2 separate regions of the Homo sapiens genome follow, and region 2 is linked to region 1. A link means that fine-mapping ties the variant in region 1 to the expression of a gene that starts in the linked region. Tissue or cell type: sun-exposed skin. Region 1 holds a variant in brackets; the other region holds the start of a gene. All regions are shown on one strand. Distances are from middle to middle.

Region 1 (8,098 bases):
GGGGTTCACGATGGAGATGGGGCTGGGGCAGGGACCAGTCAGATTTCTGATTCAGAGCAATTCAGATTGCTTGGGCAATCAATCGGACAAAATCACCCCCAGGGCAGGAAAAGAGACAGTGAGAATATTGTTGGAGGGGGTGGTGCGTGCAGGGAAGAAGGAAGAGGGAGAGAAAGAAGAAAGAAGGAATCTGAGAAGAGACCGTGGAGGGGACGGGGAGAAACCATCCCCTGCTGGAGTCCTGGAGGCAGCCCCACTGGTGCCAGCCTTCTCCTTTGGCCGGTGGGACCTCTGTGGCCAGAGGGCCAGGGACTCACCCAGGCCCCAGTGAGGGGGAGGCAGAATGGACAGAATAGGTGGGAAGACGGGCATGGGAAAGGGGTAAAAGGGGAGGTAGGGTGTGGTTGGCACAGGCCTGCATAGCTAACAATCAGAGAGACGGCCGCCCCTCCTTTTCGAGTCCACATCACAGGTGGAGGGGCCAACTCTTGCCACACGGCCAGCTCATTCCACCTCATTGCCTTTGCCCAAGCCAGTGCCCTGCCTGGGGTGCCTTTATTTCCCTACCCTCACCCCAAACATTTAATCCTCCTCCCTAATTCCTCCAACATTCACCCCAGCCCTGATCTCCCTCAGCAATGACTGTCTCACCCTCACCCTCAGAGCTTGGTGTGAGCGGGGTTACAGTCTGGTGGTCCAAGGATGCTTGCTGGTGTCCCATAAATGTGCTTAGTCCTCACAAGCAGCATGGACGAGCATCACAGCCTGGTGGTTAGGCTCACAGGCTTGGGACTCCACTGGGCCAGGTTCTAGTCCCAGCAGCTTCGTTTTCACATAGTAGTTGCTTCATAAATGCTAGGTCCCCTCCTCCTGTTCCATTGCTAGCTCAGAATGTGCACACAGCAGGTGCCCAGTGGTGGCTTCTGGGCTGAGGTGCCCTTCTGTTCCCTAGTGGGCCCCTTGTCCCTGACAGGACACAAAGATGTCACCCCTGCCTTGGCCTCCAGGCCCAAGCCTGAGCAGTGAAGCTTGGGAGAAAGGCCCCATTGCTCATTCCCCTTGAGTCTGCAGCTTGGGCAATCAATCGGTCGCCATGGAAACCAGCCTTCCAATCAGAAGCAGGCACTTCTTGGCTGCGCCAGCGCCACCTACCCACCCACTCAGGCCTGGCTGTGCGGTCCCTCACCTAGGACTGCCAGGGGTTGGGGGCGGGGAGGAGAAAAGGGAAACTGGCATAATTGGGGCACACCTGCTTCTATCCCTAAAGCCCTGAGAGTCTCCAAAGAAAGAGCATTTTCTTGGGGTGGGGGTCACTACTTCAGTGGCCCCCTGATTTTTACAGCATTCATTCCTACAGAGTATGGCCCTTGGTACTCAGAACAAAACCTGAGGGGAGGGAATGATTCACCCATTGGGCAGAAGGGAAAGCTGAGACCCAGCTGTAGGGTCAGTGGCAAAGCTAGGTGCATGCCCCCTCCCTGAGCCCCCATCTCCTTCCCCCTCCTCCCTGGCCTGAGGAATGGGACAGGGAAAGGAGGGGCAGAAGAGTTCCTGGCCCACTGCAGCCAGCACCTGCCTTCCCACTAAATCTACGCCTGGCACTTCCAGGGCCCATTAGCGCCGGGCCCACCAGGGCCCATTAGCCAGCATCTATGGGCCTCTGCACCCACCTGCCCACCCACGCCCAGCTGCAGCCTCCCGCCCAGGCCCCTCCTTCCCCCACTGCCAGCTGGGATTGGACAGAGCCCAGGCTCTGAGTCACACAACCCCACGTTCAACAACTGGCTCCTCGCTGCTGAGACTAAGCAAGCCAGGAAACCTCTCTGAGCCTCAGTTTCTCTGTTTGGAAAATGGAAAGAATTACTCCTGCCTTACAAGGGAGTGATGAGGACTCAGAGTGCATAAAGAGCTTAACACAGGGCCTGGTATGGACTCAGTAAAAGGGAGGCCACCTTCCCCATCCCTGTTCCCTCTCAGTACCCAAAACTGTCCCTTGGAGCTGAGCTAAGGCATCCACCTGCCAGGAGAAGGTAGAAGACAAATTCTACTATTCTTAATAACCAGCCCAGGAAAGCAAATTACAAATAAGATTTAGAGAAGGGCAGCAACTTGCCCCCTACCCCAACACTGGGAGGGATGGGTAGGATTTGAACCCAGGTCTGTCTGACTCAGACCTGAGCTGTCTCTGCTGCAGCCCAGCCTCTCCCGACCCTGACCCAGCCCTGCTCCAGCCAGCCAAAGCCTGTCACCCTGGGCCACTAGTGCCCAGCTCTGCACTGACAGAGCACCTGCTATGAACTTGGCATGCCAGGTGCCCACCACCACATACAGCACCCCCAGCACTTACAGGGCTGCAGAAGGGAAGTCGAAGGGATGTTGAGTCATGCTGGGGGATCTGACCTGGTTGAGGATGCTGGGGAGACTTCTGGAAGGAAGGCGGAGGCTAGACCAGCTCCCAGCCACCACACAGCTGGTGCTGCCGCCTGCTGTTTGAAGCTTTTGCCCTCTCGGCCTAGAAGTCTCCCATTATGGTGCTGTGTCTGCTGGGACCCACGGGGCGCTGCACAGGGAACCATGTGGCCGTGAACCTCAAGTCCAGCCCAGCAGGGGTCAATTGTCTCAGCCCACCCCTCCCTACCCCCAGTATCCTCTCTCCTTTATAGATCATCCATTAAGTGCCAGACACTGCAGAAGGCACATTGACTAATATTAAATATTAGCCCAGCTACCCTGCTGGGCTGTCCTTCTTAGAAATGAGGAAGTGGAGGGTTAAGTGGATTTCTCAAGGTCGTGCAGCTGGTAAATGGCAGAACCAGGATTTGAACTCAGGTGTGCATGACTTCAAAGGAAGACACCACTGAGGCCTCCTCTACTGGGTCTGCCTCCCTACCGCCCCTGGCTCCTTGATGAAGACTCCTGTAGGACAGGATGGAGCAACTTGCTTCCAGCTATTATGAGATTTCTGCTTCTCCCTTCTCTCCTCCAGAAAACAAATTGATTCATCAAATTACACCTTTAATCTGTCCTAGGGAAGGGGAGGAATGGGACTCAGCCCCCACAGCAGGAAGCAGGACGGGTAATCAGCCCACCCGTCCTCCCCAGCTCAGGCACAGCCACCCATGCTCTATCCTCCTGTGATTAAACACTAATTGCCGCTATGCTCTCAAATTGAGTATTTCAATTTCCAGAAACGCAAAGTACATTTCAATCAGTTCCTCTCCCAAACCGTTCCTTCTCAGGAGCCAGGACAAGAACATAAGCCCCCCAAGGCCATAGACAGCTAAGCCTCACTCCTGTACTCCTGCCGTCCCTCTCCCCCGCAACCACCGCTTCTCTCCTTCCCGGGTACCCCGTGGGGGAGCTGTGGGCACTCGAAGTGTGTGGGAGCATCCAAGAGACCCTACAATTGTCAGCTCAGAAAAGTGAGGCAGGCCCCCCCAACCCTGGGGTCAGACAAGGGGATGGGGACTGTCCACTAGAGGCAGGGTCCAGGCTGCCTGCTCCTCACCTGCCCCCGACCTTCTCCCTGCACACGGTCATTAGACGCTCATCCCAGCCTTCGGAGTGGACAGAGGCTGGGCAGGAATCCCAGTGGGAGCAGAGACTGGCGGGATGGACACCTGGCCCTTAGTTCCA[A/C]CTCTGCTACACATCTCCCCTCTCTGGCTCTCAGTGTCCCCATCTGTCCCAGAAAGGGGCTGGGGAGGGGCTCACAGTCGTAGCTGGAAGGTATGTGCTTCCCAGGCACAGGCCCAGGGCCAGGATCCGGCTGGCTGCAGATTCCCCTGGGGGTTCTGAGGAGGGGCCAGAAATTGACTTTTTTTTTTTTTTTTGACGGAGTCTTGCTCTGTGGCCCAGGCTGGAGTGCAGTGGCACGACCTTGGCGCACTGTAACCTCCACCTCCCGGGTTCAAGCAATTCTCCTGCCTCAGCTTCCTGAGTAGCTGAGATTACAGGCACCTGCCACCACGCCCAGCTAATTTTTGTATTTTTAGTAGAAACAGGGTTTCACCATGTTGGCCAGGCTGGTCTCAAACTCCTGACCTCAAGCAATCTGCCCTCCTCGGCCTACCAAAGTGCTGGGATTGCCGTCGTGAACTGTGCCTAGCCAAACTGGCATTTTTGAAAGGCTTTCCAAGCTGGGCATAGTGGCTCATGCCTGTAATCCCAGCTACTCAGAAGGCTAAGGGGGGATGATCCCTTGAGACCAGGAGTTGAAGACCAGCCTGAGCAGCATAGTGAGATTCTGTCTCTTAAAAAATAAAAATAAATAAGTAAATAAAAATTAAAATGATAAAAAGCCTCTCCAAATGATTCCAATATGTAGCCGGGGTTTGGGAACTGCCAGGCTAGTGCAGCCTTCTCTGTTGACAGGTGTGAATATGGGCCCAGAAAGGGTGAGCCTCTAGCCCAGAATCACACAGCAAGTGAGAGATGTTAGCCAGAAGATAGCTAACAACCCTTCCAGTTTGGACATTTCAGAAAAGCAGGTGAACAAACACACAGAGTGAAGGGGAACAGGGGTGTAGCGCCCACTGTCACGGAGAGGAAGGGTTGCTGAGAGGTCTAGTCAAGAATTCCTACTTAAAAACCGCATCCCCTCCACAATGTTAGATGTAGGTCCTGAGCAAGTTACTCCATCCTAAAAATAAAGATGGCGCTAGAGATTTAACCGAGGTCTCTCCAAGGTCCCTTCTGGCTCCAGAACCCTCCTTCCAGGCCAGCTGGAAGCATAATAAATAATAATAACAATGGCAGACATTTATTGAGCATTTACTAAGTCTAGGAACTGAGCTAAGCCTTTGGCGTGGATTGCTTCTTTCTAGCCACTCCACCATCCTAAGAAGGGCTGTCTTATTTCCCTCTAGCTCTCCTACAGGTGAGCAAAGCGCGGCTCGGGAAGGTAGCTCCTGCCGGAATGGAGCAGAAACGTCTCGGCTGGGAATCGAACCCAGGGTCAGTCAGTAGCGGCCGCGTTTTAGGACCCGGCGGTGCACCGAAGACCCGGCGGAACGGCGCGCACCCCGGGCCCAGAGCTCATTAGCCGGGCGCCGCGGGGGCCTTCATTAAAGCTCAGCGACGCGGAGGCTGCCCGCGGCGGCCCCGCCTGGGCGCTCCGGGCTGGCCCGGACCTGCGGCGTCGGCCCAGGAGCATCTGGAAAGGGGGCGCGGGCGGGGATCGGTAGGACCGCCTATGCTCAGGGACTGTCACCCACCCCCTCCCCCAAGCCAAGGAGTAGCGGGGAAGGGGGGCGAGTGCACCCAGGTATTGGGGGGAGCATCAAATCGGAGTGGAGGGGGCCGGTGTCACCGAGCTATCCCCAAACCTCGAACGGCCAAGGCCGAGTCACCCCCGCCCCACCCCCACACACTATGCACCCATTTCACAGATGGCAGGTCCTAGCTCAGAGGGTTAGGGCAGGCCCAGAACCGCATCGCCATCGCCCGTTCGCAGGCCTGATTGAGAGGCTGGAAACGAGGATGGGCAGGGAGTGAGGACCTGTAGGCTCTGCCGGAGAACTTGGGCGTGGGCGGAGCGGGGCATCCAGGAAGAAGCCCCCACCCCAGCCTTGGATAGGGTAGTATACGATAGGGGGCGTAAAGAAGGGTCATGGGCTCCGGTGGTCGCAGGTCCCACCGGCAACCGCCAGGGCGGGGGCAGCAGGAGCAGGAACCTGCTCGCCTCCGCATCTCGTCGGCTCCCCTCTCCCGCCAGACTCCTGTCTCTGCGCCAGGCTGGCCACCCATCCCCTACGCCGGCCCCGCGCCTCCGTCCTCCTCCCCGCTCCCCGCGCTCTCCTCGCCTCCTCCCGCTTCTCTTACCGGAAACCGATCCTGTCCCCTCCATCCCACTCCACCGGTTGACTGAGGTCGCCGCCCATCTTTCCACCCCCGCTGTGTGACTCTAGACGATTGTCTTAACCTCTCCGAGCCTTAGTAAGTAGGCAAGTGGAAAAAGAAGTCAGAAGACTCGGGTGATGGAATGCCAGCCTTTAATGGGTTAAAAAGTGGGAAATGTATGTGTATATATTTGCTTTTCTATGCATATGTTTGCTTGTCTGCGCAGACAGCCTGGAAGAGGAGGGAAGTCGCTGGCGAAGCTGGCTGCCTCCAGGGAGGGAGCCTGGTCCCTGGGGAATGAGCCGGGGGAGATGGAGACTCAGTATTGCACACACCTCTTAAATATTCAAATGTGTAAATGCATTAGCAATTCCAGCTAATAAACAAAATAAAATACAAACATTTACAAAACTAAAATTTAAGAATAATACTAGTGAAGATTAAGCCAGATAAAGTGTGTGAAGCCAGCAGACACACAGAAGTTTCAGTGAACCGCCCCTGTTTTGATTGTCACTGCTCACTAGGTTTGCTGTCGGCTGCTCTGGGTGCCCCTCTTCTTCCCCATCTCCCTCCGTCTTCTGGCCTCAAACCCACCTCGCCTCCTCCTCCCTGCAGCCCCTCCCTGCACTGAAGTCCCTTGCACTCCACCCCCATCTCTTCCAGGGTGGCTGGACACAGGACAGAGGAGCAGGGCTGCGGTGGAGCCCTGGGGATGATGGAGAGTGGGGGGCAGCTGAGCTGTCTGCCAGTCCCCAGGATCCCGTTTGGGAGGGGATCCCCAGTCTAGCTTCAGATATCTCCCCACCTCACAGACGCAGGGTCCCAGTGTAACCTTTGATGGATGAAAAGGTTGGAAGGGAGAACTAAGAGCGGGGGCGTGGCCGGGCGCAGTGGCTCACTCCTGTAATCCCAGCACTTTGGGAGGCCGAGGCGGGCAGATTGCCTGAGCTCAGGAGTTGGAGACCAGCCTGGACAACATGACGAAACCCCATCTCTACTAAAAATCAAAAAATTAGCCAGGTGTGGTGGCGGGCGCCCATAATCCCAGCTACTCGGGAGACTGAGGCAAGAGAATTGCTTGAACCTGAGAGGCGGAGGTTGCAGTGAGCCGATATCGCACCACTGCACTCCAGACTGGGAGACAGAGCAAGACTTAGTATCAAAAAATATATAAAAATAAAAATTAAAAAGTGGTGGGCGAAGCCCCCAGTGAACCACTGGAATCCCTTCTACATGCCCCTCCAAGACAAACGCCCCCGACATACACACACAGCCCAGCACAGCATCACCCTATACTCCATCCCACGTGCACCGGGCACAACCTCTGGCCTGCCCATCCCCCTCTTCTCAGCTCCTCCCCTCCCCACCCCCTCCACGGCACAGTCTTGGCAAGAAGGTCCCCAGAGATAGCAACAAGTAACTAGCACCTTAGGCCAGGCTGAGGGTGTGGCAGATGTGGCCTCAAGGCAGGGCAGGGTGGGGCTGGCCCAGGAACCAGAGACCTTTTCAGAATCCCGGCTCAAGGACAGGGAGAGGTGTTTCGTGACAGGAAAGAAGGAATCACTCTAGCAGTCCCAGAAAGCATGTCCAAGGGGAGTCTTGGAGCTCCTCTAGAAAGACCCTCCTCCCTAGTCTTCCTGCCTCCAGCTCGTCCCCTCCAGGCCACCATCCCCGATGCACAGTTCCAAGGCGCTTGACATGCACTGGCTCTTAACAGGGCTTTCCCAATGCACACCTGCCAGGCCTGTCCCCCACCTCCCCTTGAGGATCAAGTTCATGCAATGCAGGTTGACATTCAGAGCCCTCAAGAGGTCCTCCCTGGCCTTCCAGATGCAGCCTCCTTTCTGAAGCTCCAGCCCCCACCTCACCCTGTGCTCTCCGCTCCTTTTGGAGTGAAAGGTACCCACCCGCCTGCTTTCTGTGAGAGCACCGCACAGTCTGCAACCACAGCCTGGCCCAAGTGAGTGGAGAACCTAGAGGCCAGGGTCTGACTCATTTCTGAGTCCTCAGGGCCCCTTGGACACAGGGAGCCCAGAAGGGCAGGGGAGTAATGGCAAGTTCTGCAGATTAAGAGGGCTGAGCTGGGGCCCAGTGCCAGGCAGAGAAACAGCCCTGCCTTAACCACAGACCTGCAAGGCCGGACTGATGGGTCCCTTTAACAGGAAAGGAAACTGAGGCTCAAAGCAAGTGTCTTCTCCAAGGCCACACAGGCCTTGTTTTGGTTCCTGCATCAGTTGGCTCCCAGCTGGGAAGAGCCTGG
Region 2 (8,080 bases), 310 kb before region 1:
AGTGGCTGAGCTGAAATGAGAATCCATGTTCCCTGATGCTCCTGAGGGAAACTGAAGGAGGTGTGAACACAATTACAGAGGAGGAACTTCAGCATCCCGGGCCTTCAGGAGGCATTACCCACTGCAGGCCATTCTCCTCCTCTGAGCCTCAGTTTCCTCATCTGTAAAATGGGTGAGGACATTGGGCCTGGCACCTCCAAGCTGTCCCTTCCACTTATTTCTTAGGTTGCTTCAGGGCAGGCTGGGAAGCAGCAAGAGAACCAATTCCACTGATCCTCCCCCATGACAGCTTAAATCCCAAGGAGAAGAGGCGTCTTGAACCAAGGCCAGGAGAGGGCTGCAGGCGTTCCCAGCCAGGATTCTCTGGGAGGTGCCAAATGAACTTGAATCTTCAACTCCAGACCTTCAGAGAGCAAGCAGGCAAGAAAAATATGGGGCCTGGAAAAAGCTGCGCTGGAAAGGGCAGAGACCCTGCTGTCCTGGCTCTGTCACTAACTAGCTATGCGGCCTTGGCCCCTGCCTCTGTGCACCTCAGTCTCCCCTCTGTCAGGTGAGGTCACCGTTCAGGCCCTCCAGCTCTAAGAGTGTGCAGAACAGTTTTCCCAGCATTCTCTCTGTAGGAGGTACAGACAGGAAGAGATGTTTTTCAACAAGTCAGGCAAAATGTTGCACACGAGTTAGATTCTGTAGAGAAGGAGCTCTGACTGAGGAAAGAGCCACCAAGGAGGTGCCCAGAGACAAGAGAGGGCCCTGCTCCTGGAAATGGCCAGGCAGGGACTGGAGGGCACTCAGCAGGAGTGATGGCAGCGAGACGGCAGTCCTGCCTCTAGAAAAGGGAAGACCTCCGAGGTTCTGTCTGGCTAGGAGGTTCTAGAACTCAGCATTTCCTCTCCTGAGGCTCTCCCCAACCCTCAAGCAGTATCCAATCCACCTGGCCTTCCCTTCCACAGGAGGGGAACTTCTGAGTCGCCTTCCTGGGGCAACTAGCAGAGGGGACTCCCTCCTGGCCCTGGGAAGTAGGGGTAGGGCAGCATTGGGTGCGTCCTGGTTTATAGCCCTGGTTTGAAACAAGGCAGCATTGGATTCGAATCCTGCCTTCCACCACTTTATGTCCTGGCATCTCAGTCCCCCCACCCCCCGCTGCCAAAACAGGGGCATTGAGCTTTGTTCGCTGAGATAATGCGGTGCCAAGTGTCTGGCATGAAATGGCAGCTGCTGTTACAACTCTGCCGACGGGCTGCAGCTGCCTGGAAAGGTTATGGAACCTTTGCAAACAGCAGGCAGGGGCCCCAGGAGAGCTAGATTTGGGGAGAGGGGGATCCTGCGGGGAGGGACACTGTTGATGTCTATAAGGGTTTCTGCGGGACGAGAGAGGCCTGGAGAAGCTGGATGTGTCCGTGGGAGGTTTCTGTACAGCAATGCAAACGCTGGCTCAGGGGCATGACACCCTTAGGTATATCCTAGTACATGTGGGGCAGCTGGTGCCTGGGAGTGGAGGTGGTGGACATGTCACCAGTGACTTCTGCTCACACAGATGCTAGGTGGCTTCTTAGCACATGGCTATGAGGACACATTCTTGGGTCCTTGTGCATCCAAGCTGAAAAAGCCTTTAGGTTTGTCTCCACTTTCTGGTTTTATCGATGGAAAGACTGAGGCCTACATGGGAGGATTGAAGGCATGGGACGGACCCTGGAGAGGGTCCCAGTCATCCTTACTCCCTATCCTTCCATGGGGCAATACTCCCCAGGGACCACCCAGCACTGGGACACCTACCTACTGCATCCGGCTCCGGCTCGGTGCCCAGGAACCGCCCTTGAGACCTTGAATCCACCAGCTGGAACCTCTTAGATTCAAGGTTCTCCAGCACCTGCTCGTAGGTCTTGAGCAGGGAGCGGTCCAGTGTGGCTTTGAAGACGGCCGGTTCTGGGCGTGAGGGCTCGGATGTCACCGGGTGGCCCTCCTTCAGCCAGTTCCGGAAGCCACCATTGAGCACTGATACGGTGCGGTGGCCAAACACACGGAACATCCACCAGACCCGGGGAGCATAGAAGCTGCCCAGGTGTTCACCATCATACACCACCACGTGCGTGTGGTTGCTGATGCCCAGGCGGCCCACATACTCGGCGAAGCCAGCCTCGCTGGGCAGCATCATCTCGTAGGGCGACGCCGTGTCCCGGCACTCTTCTATGTCAAAGAAAGAGGCGCCGGGTACGTGGCGCTCGAGGTACTCCTTGCGGGCCTCTCGGGTGCCTGGTGAGTACCAGGACGCGTCCAGCACCCGCAGGCCGGGCCCCAGCTTGCCAGTCCTGATGGACTCCGCCAGCCACTTGGTGGAGACCAGCGCCCGGTAGAGCACCTGATGAACCATGGCTTCAGCTCTGCGTGTCACCTGGCACGGGTGGGAACCAGGAAAGAGAGACAGGCGTGAGGAAGGAAGTCGGTGTGTGCAGTAGGGTGAGGCCTGGGAGAAGCTCTTTCTCCCTCCGCACTCCCCCGGGTTCCTTGTTTACAGCAAGCCAGCGAGGCTGGGGCGTGCAGCGGGATAAGTTTGCAGATTCCCTCTGGAAAGCCGGCCCCGCCCCTCCCAGCCGGCCCGGGGGCCCAGCGCAGAAGCGGGTGGGGCAAGAGTTTCCGAGGACTCCAAGTAGGGGCGCTTCCTGGGGCGGGGATCTGGCTCCTAGAAGTTACAGTACTCGATCCCGCCAGGAAAGAGCAATGAAAGCATGCCCGGGATGGGGGGCGATGGCATCTTGGGCTTAGAATCCCCTTTCCTTCCAAGGCAGAGGGGGTGGGCGCACGGCTAGGAAGCTCCGCGAGCCGCGCACACGCCATCGCCTGCGGCCTCCCCAGGCAGCCCGAGCTCGCCCGCCTCCAGAGTGCCCGAGTCCGGCCCGTAGCTCGCTGCCCTCTGCCCTAGGTGGATCAGGGGTTCCCGGGGCACCCCGTCCCACTCTCGCAACGCTATCCTTCCCCGGGCAGCAGGTGGCCCGACCGGCGGCCCAGGCGCCCGGCCGCTGCCCCCGCCCCGCACTCACTCGCCCCGGACGCCGCGCTGGCGCTCGCCCCGGCCGGCTGGAGAAGTTGGCCGGTTCAAACCCCCGGCCGCAGCTCCCCAGGCGGCGCGCACCATCGCGCCACCGCCAGAGGGGGACCCTGCGCCGCCCGCCGCCATCCCGCGCCTCCCCCGCGCGGCCGCTTCGCGCCCGGCACCTGCCAACCTCGCGCGCGGGGCCTCCGGGACCCGCGGGGGTCTGAGGGGGACGCCGGGTGGCGCGGGGGCCGCGCGGGCCTGGGCTGGGCGGAGCGGGCGTACCCCCACGGCCCGGCCAGTGGAAGGCGCGGGCAGCAGCGGCTCCGAGTGGCCGCGGCGGTGGGCTGTGCCGGAGTCTCCTCCCTTTGGTCCGCTGCAGGTTGGTGGCGGGAGGAGGGGACAGCTGCGGGCGCGGGGAGGGGGCGCCGCGCCGCGGGGGCCATGGCGGAGCCAGGAAGCCGGGAGTCCGAGACCCGGGTAACTGCCGCGGCGTGGCGGCTTGCCTTTCTGGAGGGGGAGGGAGTGGCTCTTTGGGGGTGCTCGGCGCGGGGCTCCCGCGCGGGACCTGGGCGGAAGAGGGGGCTTAGTCTAGGAGAGAAGGCGCGCCGCTACGTTGGCACTAAGGGTGACTGTCCGCTTGGGGCGGCCTGCCGGGTGGGGTCGTGGCGAGTGGCGGGTGGGGAGCCTTGGGTGGAAGTGGGTGACCTGGTGGCACCAGAGAGGGCGGGGGAGAGAGAGGAGGACAGGGAGACGAGACCCCGCTGACCCAGAGGCCCCAGGAAGAGACACTAGCCAATAACTTGTTAGTGAGTGAAAGGAACTAACATTGTCCAGCCCTGCTTGGTGTGGCACTTTGCTGGGTACTCCCGTGGTGTGACTTAATTCCCACAATAACCCTGAGGAGTAGGCCAGAAACTTACTAAGACAGGAGAGAGCGGCAGAGCGAGTTGCTGGAGGACACACCCAGAGTTGAGGCCGGGCCTGATCCCTGGTCTGAAGCCCACGTGGTACCAGCTGCCTTTGTTTACCTGGCTCTTCCCTGAAGGTTCATGCTTTTTAAAAAATTGCCTGTTTTGAACTTAGCCCGTTTAATCATAAGTTGATGTAATTCAATTTTTAATAATAGCTGTATTTAACAACCAGTTGGCAAAATTCCTGAAAAGCTCGCCATGGGCTCTTGCAAACTGGGGGACACCATTGCCCCTCCCTAGCTTTTGCAGAGGCCAGCCTGGAAGCTTTCCCTGTTTCCCAACCCTGACCTTTTGTTTTGTTTTGTTTTTTGAGACAGGCTGTGGTTCTGTGGCCCAGACTGGAGTGCAGTGGCGCCATCTCAGCTCACTGCAACCTCCGCCTCCCAGGCTCAAGCGATCCTCCCACCTTAGCCTCCCAAGTAGGTGGGACCACAGGCATGTGCCACCATTCCCGGCTAATTTTTAAATTTTTGGTAGAGATGGGGTTTCACCATGTTGTCCAGGCTGGTCTTGAACTCCTGGGCTCAAGTGATCTGCCCATCTCAGCCTCCCAAAGTGCTGAGATTACAGGCATGAGCCACCATCCCTGGCCTCATCCCTCTTTTTAAAAAAAGGTTTTGTTCTAAAATGCTCACAGCAATCCTCAAAGCCTAGTGTCTGGTGGTTGGGGGAGGGGGTGGGCAGGAGGGACCAGGCTGGGGAGGTCCAAGAGGAGCTCCCAAGCTCTGCTCCTCAAGGGGTACCCTGGATCCAGCCTGCGGCTCACGCTTGCTTCAGTGCAGCTGTGTATCCTTCTGACATGAGCCTGGGGCGGTTACGTCCTGGGGTCCTCCACTCCCAGGGCACCCTCACCTACAGTGATCCCGGCTTCTGAATCACACAGGCACCTGGTTTCTACCCCTCCCTGACACCCACAGCCTGCCTTCACACCCTCCTTTATGGCCCACAGACCTTTGTGAGAAGTGCCAATCAAGCAGGGAGACTGGGGCAGGGTGACCTCAGATCTCTGAAGTCCCACCAAGCCCTGAAATTCTAAGATTTTAGATTTGCTGCTGGCAGTTCCAGGGCCACCAATGAGAGTAATGGAAGAAATAATGCAATATTATTATTATTATTATTATTTTGAGATGGAGTCTCACTCTGTTGCCCAGGCTGGAGTGCAGTGGCGCGATCTCGGCTCACTGTAACCTCTGCCTCCCAGGTTCAAGCGATTCTCCTGCCTCAGCCTCCCGGGTAGCTGGGACTACAGGCTCATGCCACCATGCCCAGCTAATTTTTGTATTTTTAGTAGAGATGAGGTTTCACCATGTTAGTCAGGCTGGTCTTGAACTCTTGACCTCGTTATCCGCCCGCCTTGGCCTCCCGAAGTGCTGGGATTGCAGGTGTGAGCCACCACGCCCGACCTAAACCGTTTTTAATGATTATTAAAACCAGCCAGATGTAATGCATGGTGGTTGCCCCTCTACATTTATTGTTTAATCTTGGCTCTAAGAGGTGGAGGTGAGAAGCTCCATTATAAGGAACAGAAACCACCCAGAGACCCTACACACCCACATCACACAACCAGTTAAGCAGTGGAGTGGGGTTTACATTGATTTGGGGGGCTCTCTGGCTCCTAAACCAGGGCTCTTTCTACTGTAAATGGATGATTGGGTGAGGGAAACAAGGATCCTCAAGAATAGGGGACAGTGTTTGGGGGTGCACAGGGGCTGCTGTGGTTCCCACAATAGGGTTCCTCAGGAAGGAACCTGCAGCATCTGCCAGCACAGCGCCCCCTAGCTGTGCTGTAACGCAGATAATGGGGATCACCCCTTAGCCAAACACCCCTTGGCAGCCTCCCTACCCTAAAGACCGTGCTGAGGCTTCCTGGGCCCCTGGAAAAGTCAGATTAGTCTGGACTTCCTCCTACTCCAGGAAGCCTTCCCACCTCTTCTGCTGCCACCCCAGGCAAACATAGGGGCCCTCTGTGCTCAACACTGAATTCTAAACTATCCTCAATTTCACTCTCTCTTGCCTGCAGCCTGACGTTTCCCCCCAGGGCTTGGCAAAGGCAAGAGTGCCTCGGTGTCCGGCACAAGGCCTGACCGCATGGGTGAAGTAGGTTCCTAAAAGCCAGCTGCGGCCAGACTGTGGGGGTGGGCACAGGGTGTCACCCTAGAACTCATTAGGCCCTGGTCATCATGGCACCTGGGGCAGGGGAAGTCCAGCCTGAGGGGTCAAATTCTGGCTGCAAATCCTGAGGCTGCCTCCTGTGACCACGGGCAAGGCACTTATTCTTCTAATTGCCAGTGGCCTCATTCATAAAGCAGGCGTCCTAATACCCGCCCAAGGCTGCGGTGCCTAGCATGTGACCTGGCCCACAGAGGCACTCGGTCCACAGATGTTGTTCTCTACCTGCCCCCTTCATTTCGCTGGCAGGACTGCATGCAGTGGGTGTCAAGGTTGGGCCTCACACAGGGGATAAGTGAGGGCTGATCTGCAGCCCATACTCCACACACCCAGCCATGTGCCCTGGTGGGGGCTCAGCCTCTGCCTGGCAGAAGGGGCCCTTTCCTCTCACCTGCACAACGGTGGCTTCCCAGCACAAAGGGCTTAAAGTGTTTGGGAAGTTTACACCCAGGAAGGCTGTGGGCTGGCCTGGCATAGTGGGCTGGCGAGCTGGTGCACTGTCTCTGGTATGCAGGAAAGATAGAGAGGAGAGGGAGGGAGGTGCGAAGTCACTGTTGCTGCTGCTAGAAGGGCCAGAGAGAGCCCAGGCTGGACAGGCAAAACCTGGCCTCGCCAGACTCCTGGAGCCTGCACAGAGTGTGTGTCTGAGAAGTCCGGATTCTGGTGCCAGACTGACTGCCTAGTGAGAAGCCTGGCACCGCCGGGTCAGGCTAGTGCACTTTTTCTTGTTTGTTTTTTGTTTTTGAGACAGAGTTTTGCTCTTGTTCCCCAGGCTGGATTGCAATGGCACGATCTCGGCTCACTGCAACCTCCGCCTCCTGGGTTCAAGCAGTTCTCCTGCCTCAGCCTCCCGAGTAGCTGGGATTACAGGTGCCCTCCACTAAGCCCGGCTAATTTTTTGTATTTTTGGTAGAGACGGGGTTTCACCATGTTGGCCAGACTGGTTTCAAACTTCTGACCTCAGGTGATCCACCTGCCTGGGCCTCCCAAAGTGCTGGGATTACAAGCGTGAGCCACCGCACCAGGCCAGGTTAGTGCACTTCTGTGAGCCTGAGTGTCCTCCTTGAAACGGTGACAATAATATACCAGGCCTCTTAAGATCACTCATTCAACACATACTGGAGAGTCTACTGTGTCAGGCATTGTTCTAGGATATTGTTAGGATTCAGTGGTACCCAGCAAGGACTCAGTAAATTCCAGCTACTGTTCCTATTAGGTCGCCAATATAAATGCTTGATGAGTGAATGAATGACTTCCGTCTGGGACTTGGTTGCAAATAAAGCCGAGCTGCATCTTAGGGAGGGGTGGAGACTTTGCCCCTGTTTGTGCCTTGAAGCCAGCAGGGCCTTGCCCTAGGATACCTCCACCCACCCTCCTGCCCAGCAAGTGGAGGTGAGGGGCGTGGCCTGGGGCTCTCCGGGAGGTCATGGTCATTGGGTCACTCGGAGCTTGTGTTTATATGAGGCCTGGCAGAGGGAGGCCCCTGGCTACCCACCTTTGTGCCCGGGTTCACCACCACTGGTTTCTGCGTTCCCTGGACTCTGCCCTGCACGGGCCGCACCTCCCCCGCCGGCCCTCGCCCATGCTCCAGCCCCAGCCCTAGCCCCAACAGCGGCCTCTCCCTGCTTCCCTTCTGACATCCTCCCTGTCGCCCAGGCCCGCAGCCCGAGTGTCGCCGCCATGGCTTCGCCGCAGCTCTGCCGCGCGCTGGTGTCGGCGCAATGGGTGGCGGAGGCGCTGCGGGCCCCGCGCGCTGGGCAGCCTCTGCAGCTGCTGGACGCCTCCTGGTACCTGCCGAAGCTGGGGCGCGACGCGCGACGCGAGTTCGAGGAGCGCCACATCCCGGGCGCCGCTTTCTTCGACATCGACCAGTGCAGCGACCGCACCTCGCCCTACGACCACATGCTGC

Which allele goes with the higher level. Positions count from the first base shown, and alleles are read on the strand shown. Sizes are in standard deviations (SD) of each study's normalised expression.
For the expression in sun-exposed skin of the gene that starts at base 3,378 in region 2, A is the high allele of the variant in region 1 and C is the other (small effect, 0.36 SD a copy in GTEx).

What was found. PIP is the estimated chance that this variant, and not a neighbour inherited with it, causes the effect.
Region 2: it holds the start of MPST, and the variant in region 1 is fine-mapped to the expression of MPST in sun-exposed skin (GTEx, PIP above 0.99).

Annotation. Positions count from the first base shown.
Region 1 is chr22:37,329,546-37,337,643 of GRCh38, forward strand. It overlaps LOC105373024 (a long non-coding RNA gene), which reads right to left and starts at 2,591. Exons shown (of 4, transcript XR_938232.3): 1 at 2,348-2,591. RefSeq lists an enhancer at 1-64 and a silencer at 963-1,257. The variant A/C (reference allele first, on the strand shown) is at 3,637.
Region 2 is chr22:37,016,365-37,024,444 of GRCh38, forward strand. MPST (mercaptopyruvate sulfurtransferase) reads left to right here and starts at 3,378. Exons shown (of 3, transcript NM_021126.8): 1 at 3,378-3,508; 2 at 7,828-8,080. The coding sequence starts at 3,473. It overlaps TST (thiosulfate sulfurtransferase), which reads right to left and starts at 3,083. Exons shown (of 3, transcript NM_003312.6): 1 at 3,036-3,083; 2 at 1,774-2,389. The coding sequence starts at 2,368. RefSeq lists enhancers at 1,626-2,601, 2,630-3,131 and silencers at 2,605-2,664, 2,825-3,214, 3,245-3,364, 3,375-3,694.